Regions from separate parts of the Homo sapiens genome. Here region 1 is linked to region 2. The links come from fine-mapping of genetic effects on gene expression. A gene starts in region 2. The other region holds a variant in brackets. All regions are shown on one strand. Distances are from middle to middle.

The links. PIP is the estimated chance that this variant, and not a neighbour inherited with it, causes the effect. A credible set is the group of variants that fine-mapping cannot tell apart.
Region 1: its variant is the best candidate, but not a certain one, in a credible set for the expression of TRIM4 in lymphoblastoid cells (GENCORD, PIP 0.68).

Annotation. Positions count from the first base shown.
Region 1 is chr7:99,881,211-99,885,608 of GRCh38, forward strand. No RefSeq gene overlaps it. Among named protein-coding and RNA genes, the nearest start is that of OR2AE1, 6.4 kb to the left of the region's middle. The variant CT/C (reference allele first, on the strand shown) is at 1,803.
Region 2 is chr7:99,916,745-99,921,142 of GRCh38, forward strand. TRIM4 (tripartite motif containing 4) reads right to left here and starts at 2,786. Exons shown (of 6, transcript NM_033091.3): 1 at 2,265-2,786. The coding sequence starts at 2,657. It overlaps LOC101927610 (a long non-coding RNA gene), which reads left to right and starts at 2,859. Exons shown (of 2, transcript XR_001745296.3): 1 at 2,859-3,083. RefSeq lists a silencer at 2,358-2,517 and enhancers at 2,648-2,697, 2,728-2,807, 3,048-3,157.

The sequences.
Region 1 (4,398 bases), 36 kb before region 2:
TTAGCTTTACACTTCCTTCCCTACTTAATAAAATATGAATTTGGCTGATGCAGTCAGGAAGCACTTTTCTGACTGCATAAATGTCTTCTCAATAGTAATCATGGGGGTTAGAGTAAGAACATTCTTGGTCTGATGTGAGCCAATCATAAGAAAAAACAGACATCATCTGGGAGAAATAAAACATCCCCCTAACCCAGAGGACCTATGTCAGCTGAAGCAAATTGTGGACACTAAATAGAATGGCGTCAGGGATTCCATCCCAGAGGACACATCTTGCATGGCTTCTGGAGACCATTACTCAAGATGTCAATTAGACTGTGCTGTATGCACTGAGATAAGCATCCCCAAAGGGCTTTACTTGGAGTTTGTTCCAAGTGATCAGGAGAATGAGATATTTTGCGGAGTGAGCCTGAAGATAACAGGAGAATATTCTCCTCAGGGGCCAATTAACTGTGGAGATAAAAAATTCTTAGAGTCCCTTGATTGTTTTTCACTTGGGAACCCAGATTTCTGTAACGCCTTTCCACGCAACCCTTTTGAGAAGACAGTCTGAGTAATAATATCTAGTCTCTTTTGCCCACAGGACCCTTTTGAGGGTTTCCATGTGCCATATCATAGGAAAGAAGTCAAGGAATAGAGGCAGGCAGTTCCCATCCTAGCTGTTGATCGTACTCCAATTTCATAGACTACATGAATATAACATGTCAAGAGATTTCAGGTCGAGTGCGGTGGCTCACACCTTTAATCCCAGCACTTTGGGAGATGGAGGCAGGTGGATTACTTGAGGTCAGAAGTCTGAGACCAGCCTGGCCAACATGGCAGAACCCTGTCTGTACTAAAAATACAAAAATTAGCCAGGCATGGTGGCACACATCTGTAGTCCAAACTACTCGGGAGACTGAGGCAGGAGAATCACTTGAACCCGAGAGGTGTAGGTTGCAGTGAGCTGAGATCGCACCACAGCACTCCAGCCTGGGTGACAGAGTAAAACTTCATCTCCAAAAAAAAAAAAGAAAGAAAGAAAGAAAAAGATTTCAGACACAGAGGGAAAAGGAAAAAATGGCATAACCCTACCTCTCCTTCTTATGCACTCCGATATCATTCTCATACCCTGCCCTTCCTTTCCATTATAGGGATATGTTGACCTCTTCTTTGTTTCTCCATCTCAACTCAAATCCTAAAATGTTTTGCTTCACTGATATTCGCTGGTTGTTTAAAATTGTGTAGCACTCTCCCCAACTCTCTCTCACTCCTGCTTTCTCCATGTGACCTACCTGCTCTCACTTTGCCTTCTACGGTGAGTAAAAGCTCCCTGAGGCCTCCCAAGAAGATCATCGGACACAAGCACCAGGCTTCCTGTACAGCCTGCAGAACCATGAGCCAATTAAACCTCTTTTCTTTATACATTACCCAGCCTTGGGTACTTCTTATAGCAATGGAGGAATAACCTAATACAGATTGCAAATAATTTCTCTCATTCAATAGGTGGGCTTTTTATTTTTATTTTTTATCGTTTCTTTGCTGTGCAGAAGCTTTTGAGTTTGATGTCTTCCCACTTGCCCGTTTTTGCTTTTGTTGCCTTCTTTTGGTGTCATACCCAAGAAATCATTATAAAGGCTAATGTCAAGAAGCTTTTCCCTTATGTTTTCCTCTAGGAGTTTTATGGTTTCAGGTCTTACATTTTGGTCTTTAATTCATTTTATGCTGATTTTTGTGTATGGTGTAAGAGAGGGGTTTAATTTCTTTGTTTGCATGCGGATATCCAGTTTTCCCAAAACCAGTTATTAAAGAGACTATCTTTT[CT/C]TTTTTTTTTTTTGAGACGGAGTCTCACTGTTTTGCCAGGCTGGAGTGCAATGGCGTGATCTCGGCTCACTGCAACCTCTGCCTCCCAGGTTCAAGCAATTCTCCTGCCTCAGCCTTCCAAGTAGCTGGGATTACAGGCACATGCCGACATGCCCAGATAATTTTTGTATTTTTAGTAGAGACGGGGTTTCACCACGTTGGCCAGGATGGAAAAGAGACTATCCTGTCTTTATTGTGCATTCTTGGCACACTTGTTGAAGATAAGCTGACTGTATATGCATGGGTTTATTTCTGCACTGCCTATTCTGTTCTGTTTGTCTATCTGTCTGTTTTTATGCCAATACTGAAGCGACATCATTTGTCTGGGGAAATACCCAAGGTTCGTTGTCTTGTGCTAAGGAAATCAAATATGAGGACACATACAAGGAGTGGGTTTAAGAGCAGAACTTTAATTAAAGTGAAAGAAAGAAGACAGAGCTTCCTCATGCAGAGGAAGGGAACCAAAGTGGGTTTCCAGGTTTGGGGTGAGATGCAGTTGACTTTATAGAGGGGCTTAGAAAGGCAGTGTCTGATTTTCATAGGGCCCATGGGATTGGTTGGACCAGGTGTGCCATTTACATAGCCCGTGATTAGGCTGGCCATCCCACCCTAATCTTTTATTATACAGGTGGGATCTCCACCTGGCCAGCACCATGACATCTGCACATTTGGCAACAAAGAGAAGGGAGGAGAAAACCTCCATGTTGGATGTACCTGGCTTCCAGGTATCTCTTTGGTATCGGCACGGCTGCCAGTATTCACCTATGCAAGCTTCCAGCTTGTGTATCAATGCTTGCAGCTTGATTTTTCAGGTTGATTTTTGTTAGAAAAGAAATGATGTGGGGGCTGCTTTTTATTAAAAGGAAATTCCACTGAGAATTCTTTTACCCTTACTAACTGCCTAAATAATTCCTTTTTAACTTCTATATCAGTATCATGCTGTTTTGATTATTGTAGCTATGGAATATAGTCTTAAATCAGGACTTGTAATGTCCCCAGCTGTGTTTTTCTTGCTCAAAATTGCTTTGGCTATTTGAGGCCTTTTGTGGTTCCATGTGAATTCTAGGATTTTTTTCTATTTCTGTAATAAATACCATCAGGATTTTGATAGAGACTGCACTGATTCTGTAGGTTGCTTTGGTAATATGAACATTTTAACAATATTATTCTTCCAATTCATTAACATGGAATGTCTTTTCATTTATTTGTGTTTTCTCCATTCCAAAAACAACATAATACACATTCTTATCATCTGCAATGGCACATACTCTAAAATCAACCAATCAGCCATAAAACAATTCTCCACAAATTCAAAAAAACCAAAATCATACCAACCACACTCTCAGACCACAAAACAATAAAAATAGAAAACAATAATAAGAATAGCAATCAAAACTAAACAATAACATGGAAATTAAACAACCTGCTACTTAATGACTTCTAGGTAAACAATGAAATGAAGGCAGAAATCAAGAAATTCTTTGAAACTAGTGAGAACAAAAGATATAATATACCAAAATCTCTGGGACATGGCCAAAGCAGTATTAAGTGGAAAGCTTATAGCACTAACTGCCCACATCAGAAAGCTAGAATCTCAAATTAACAACCTAATATCACACCTTGAGGAACTAGAAAAACAAGAGCAAACCAAATCCAAAGTCAGTAAGAGACAAGAAATAACCAAAATCAGAGCTGAACTATATGAAATTCAGGTGCAAAAAAACCATACAAAATATCAATGAAACCAGAAGTCGATATTTGAAGGAATAAGTAAGATTGATAGACCGCTAGATAGACTAATAAAGAAAAAGAGAGAAGATCCAATTAAACACAATCAGAAATGACAAGGGGACATTACTACTGACCCAATAGAAATATTTAAAAAAAACAAAAACCTCAGAGAGTATAACAAACACCTCCATGCACACAAGCTAGAAAACCTACTAAAAGTGGCTAAATTCCTGGAAACATACAATCTCCCACGATTGAACCAGGAAGAAATTAAAAATCTGAACATACCAATAACAAGTTACAAAATTGAATTGGTAATAAAAAGCCTATCAACCAGATAAAGCCCAGGATCAGAAGGATTCACAGCTGAATTCTACCAGATGTATAAAGAAGAGCTGGTATCATTCCTGCTGAAACTATCCAAAAAACTGAAGAGGGACTCCTCCCTACCTCATTCTATGAGGTCAGGATCATCCTGATACAAAAACATGGCAGAGACAAAACAAAAAAAGAAAACTTCAGGTCAATATCCTTAAAAAAAACATAGATGGAAAAATTCTTAACAAAATACTTGGCTGGGCTTGGTGGCTCACACCTGTAATCCCAGTACTTTGGGCGGCCGAGGAGGGCGGATCACGTGAGGTCAGGAGTTTTAGACCAGCCTGACCAATATGATGAAACCCTGTCTCTACTAAAAATACAAAAATTAGCCAGGCGTGGTGGCACGTGCCTGTAATCCCACCTACTCAGGAGCCTGAGACAGGAGAATCGCTTGAATCCGAGAGGCGGAGGTTGCAATCAGCCGAGATCAGGCCATTGCACTCC
Region 2 (4,398 bases):
TTCCATTCATCCACGTGGATGTCAAAGTTACCTGTCTAAAACAAAAAAAACGATCATATCATTCCCTGCCTTAAAACCCTTTTATAACTCCCCACTGCCTGAAAGAGAAAGTTCAATCTTTTTACTATGGCAAACAAGATCCTTCATGATAAGGCCCTGCCTTTTTCTTCAAGCTCATGGCCCACCATCCTCCTTCCCATGCTCCATGCTCCAGAAGTACTGAGCAACCTCCAGTCCTCTCACACACCACATGCTATCCCACTCCACCACATTTGGAATATGCTGTTCCTTTGGCCTGAAATACCTTCTTTCCTACCTCTACTCACCCTTGAAGAGCTAACACATTTAACTCCTCAACGGAGCCTTTCCTCACTCCTCAGTGATCACTCCGACCTCAGACCTTCTGTACACTTGGTAAATACTTCAGCTACTCTCACACACACTGAAATTAATGTTGTACACGCTTAAGTTCCTTACAAGACAAAGCCCATGTCTTTCTCATCCACTTATGTCCAGATTCTAAAACAATGTTTGGCAAATAGTAAGCATCAATAAACGTTACTGAGTGAAGGAATGAACATACACTTTCTAGTCCAGCTTTGTGTCTGTTTCCTGTTCATAGTCAGCTGGTACAACTGTACAGTATTTTACAGTTTCCAAACATTTTCACTGTGTCATTAAATTCATGTGTTTGGCCAGGAAAGCTTGCTCACGCCTGTAATCCCAGCACTTTGGGAGGCCAAGGTGGGTGGATCACCTGAGGTCAGGAGTTCGAGACCAGCCTGACCAACATAGTGAAACCCTGTCTTCACTAAAAATACAAAATTAGCTGGGCATGCTGGCAGGTGCCTGTAATCCCAGCTACTCGGTAAGCTGAGGCAGGAGAATCACTTGAACCCGGGAGGTGGAGGTTGCAGTGAGTTGAGATCTCACCACTGCATTCCAGCCTGGGCAACAAGAGCGAAACTCCATCTCAAAAACAATAATAATAAAATAAATAAATAAATTCATGTGTTCATGTACTTACTGCATATCAATTCTGCTGGAGACCACTGGAGTTACACCATCAGTAATGGGAGGGGGTGGGGCTACTCTGGAAAGGATGATCAGGGAAGGTCTTCAAGCTAAAAGCTAAAAGGATCTAAAGGATAGATGTGGGTAGAGAAAGAGAACAGACTTGAAACAAAAGCAAGAAAGCCAGTATGGCTGAAGCAGAGTAAGGTAAAGTGATTTATTCAACCGGAGCTTCTTAACCCATGAGATAGGACAGATAATCCCCAAATTCAAATGTTACAGGATTTTCCCAACTGATGAAGGAAGCTAGTAACAAAACCCAGCCTCATCATTACAAGCTAGGCTTTTCCCAAATCATCAGCTGTCTATGACATTTACAGATACAGACAGGCACTGTCCAATACAGTATCCATTTAGCCATACAAGCACCTGAAACGTGGATATTCCAAACTGCTATGTGTTGTAAATGTAAAATACACACCAATTTCAGACCTATTATGAAAAAGGAGTATAAAATATCTCATTGAGGCCGGGCGTGGTGACTCACACCTTAATCCCAGCACTATGGGAGGCCAAGCGGGGCAGATCACTTGAGGTCAGCAGTTCGAGACCAGCCTGGCCAAGATGGTGAAACCCCTCTATACTAAAAAACAAAAATTAACCGGGTGTGGTGGCGTGTGCCTGTAATCCCAGCTACTCGGGAGGCTGAGGCAGGAGAACTGCTTGAACCCCGGAGGAGGAGGTTGCAGTGAGCCAAGATCACGCCACTGTGCTCCAGCCTGGGCAATAAAGTGAGACTCCATCTCAGAAAAAAAAAAAAAATCTCATTGATAATTTTCATCTCAGCTTTGAATATTTGGGGTAATCAGATTAAATAAAATATATTATTACAATTAACGTCACCTCGTTTCCTTATCTTACCAGAAAGATTTTAAATTACATATGTGGTTTCTATTGGACAGCAGCGGCACACACCCTCTCAGTATGTTTTTCTTTATTATGAGCTCCCCAAGGGCCAGTTTATTGAAAATTCTGCACAATGATTGCTGAGGTTTGCACCTCCCCTCCTCTCATTCCAGTTTTAACCCTAGCTCTGAAATTCGTGTTTTGCTTAACTTCTTTGAGTTTCAGGGGCTTTTCATGCTTCCAGTAGGAATGACAGCCACTTCGTGGCTCTTTTAGGAGCATTAAGTAAACTTTATCGGGCAACACTGACAGCCCCGTCATAGTCACCGCGACGGCCAGCTCACCCGGTAGCTCTCGAAGGCCTCGTCGATGGGTGCCATGGCGTGAGTCTGGTGCTCCTGGGACTCCCTGCACACCAGGCACACTGGCCGCTGGTCGTCCTCGCAGAAGAGCCGCAGCGGCTCCCAGTGGCGGCCGCACAGGCCCGGGGGCACGGGGCCCAGGCGCCGGCGCTGCGTCTTCTCAGTCAGCCTGGCCAGGGCCCAGTTGGGTCGCAGCGCGGCGGGCGCCGATGGGTGCCGACATTCGGGGCAGGGGAACGGGCCGCCGCCCGGCGCCCAGTTGCGGTGCAGGCAGCCGCGGCAGAAGTTGTGGCCGCACTCGATGGACACCGGGTCCTGGAAATAGTCCAGGCAGATGGGGCAGGTCAACTCCTCCTGGATGTCCTCAGCTTCCATGCTGCTTCCCTGCCGCGGAGACGGAGTCCGACGTGAGGCGCGGGAGAGGCCAGCAAGCTGCGAGCGGCCGCGGGGAGGCCAGACGACTTCCGAACCGCCGTCACCGCCTCACGTAAAAGGGTACAACGCAGTTTCTCTTCCGGGGTTCAGGACCCAAAAAGAACGCACGGACGTTGCCCGGCCTGAGCGCGCAAGACCGGAAGCTGCTGGGTATCCGCGCCGGAACCGCGAGGGGGTTGGTTCAGGCCTAGGCGCGGGGCAGGACGGGACCGGTGAGTGGCTCCTCCAAACAGCTATAGAGACCCAGAAATGCCTGTGGAAAGCTACAGAGGACTTGGGCAAGGCGTTAGAGCCGGACGTTGTGGTCCCTGGGGGAGCCAACCGGGGAGGTGCCTATGATCTTTCTTTCCAAGTTTGAGGGTTCAGGTCTGTGTTCGCCTGCTGGTTAGACCGATTTAAGTTTTAGAGTCCCAGGAGTTCTGGGCGAGCTGCAGCCTAGGGGCCTGGAAGGCCAGGAAGACTTGAAGGATCTGTGTTGGTAGGCCTGGAGTTTGGCTAACGTGGGGATGATTTGGATTCTGAGATGCAGATACATTGCCTTTTTGGTATCCAATTTGAAAAGTAGCAACCATTTTGCTATCCCAAAGAACATCCATGGAGGCTTTCAACAAATAATATGCTCACCTGTTTCAGGGAATTATCTATATCCCTTAAGTGGATTTTCGATCTTGTGTTTCTGAGGTGCTTTGCTTTTTATTCTTCCCACTTTCTTCCTTTTCTTGTGAATATTTGTTTAAAACAAAAAAAACTCTGGACTGACAAATTTAATAGAAGCTATTTGCACAAAGAACAGTTCATGAATTGGGCAGCACTCAGAACCAAAAGAGGTTCAGAGAGCTCTGTCCAGCAGTATGACCTGCTAGCTTTTATAGGAAGCAAAGTAGAGAAATCACCTCATTAGCTAACATCTAGGTGTCTGCCTTATTTGACAATGATATGATGAGGCATTTGCCTTATTGGGGCATGGTCTGATCAGTTGGCTGTCTGTTATTTGCTGAAGCTCGGCCGTGATTGGCTGAAACCCAGCTGTTATAAAAAATAAAGTAAGTTAGGCTTCAGTTCGTTTACATACTAAGTCAGGTTGTATTTTGTTATATGGGAACTCAAGTACCAAGACAGCCTCAGGCTAATGGGCTTTTGCTTATTTAACAGATTTTTCATTCTTTTTATGTCCCAATATCAAATACTGCCTTTCCTATAATAATTTTTCTCAGTAAGTAGTATGATTAAATGATTAGAAAAAGGGGTTCTTGAGGTATCTGTTTGGGGGTTATTGATGAAAGTTCCACTGAATATTTCTAAAACATTTAAATTGGACAACTAATGAATGGATTTTCTTTGCAAATTGGAATACTCTATGGAGAAGGGATCTGGTTCTTTAATAGGGACCAAGCAGGAAGGAATGCTCTTAACAGTTACTGATGTTTACCATGAGTGTTTATGGCATCTGTGTGTCTATATGTTTACCTAAGTATTGAATGAGAAGTTTCAGCATTCCTGCAAAGTATTTATTCCCCTTACAGTAGTCATTTAAATCTTTTCAGGTAAATCCCTTAAAATCCTTATGTCTTTATTCCTGCCATACCAGAGATGACCTTCCTTCTTTACTAAGTGAGGCTCCCTAATTAACAATTTTTCTCCATCACAAAATGTCTATAAGTCTGTATACCAGCCAAGGTTC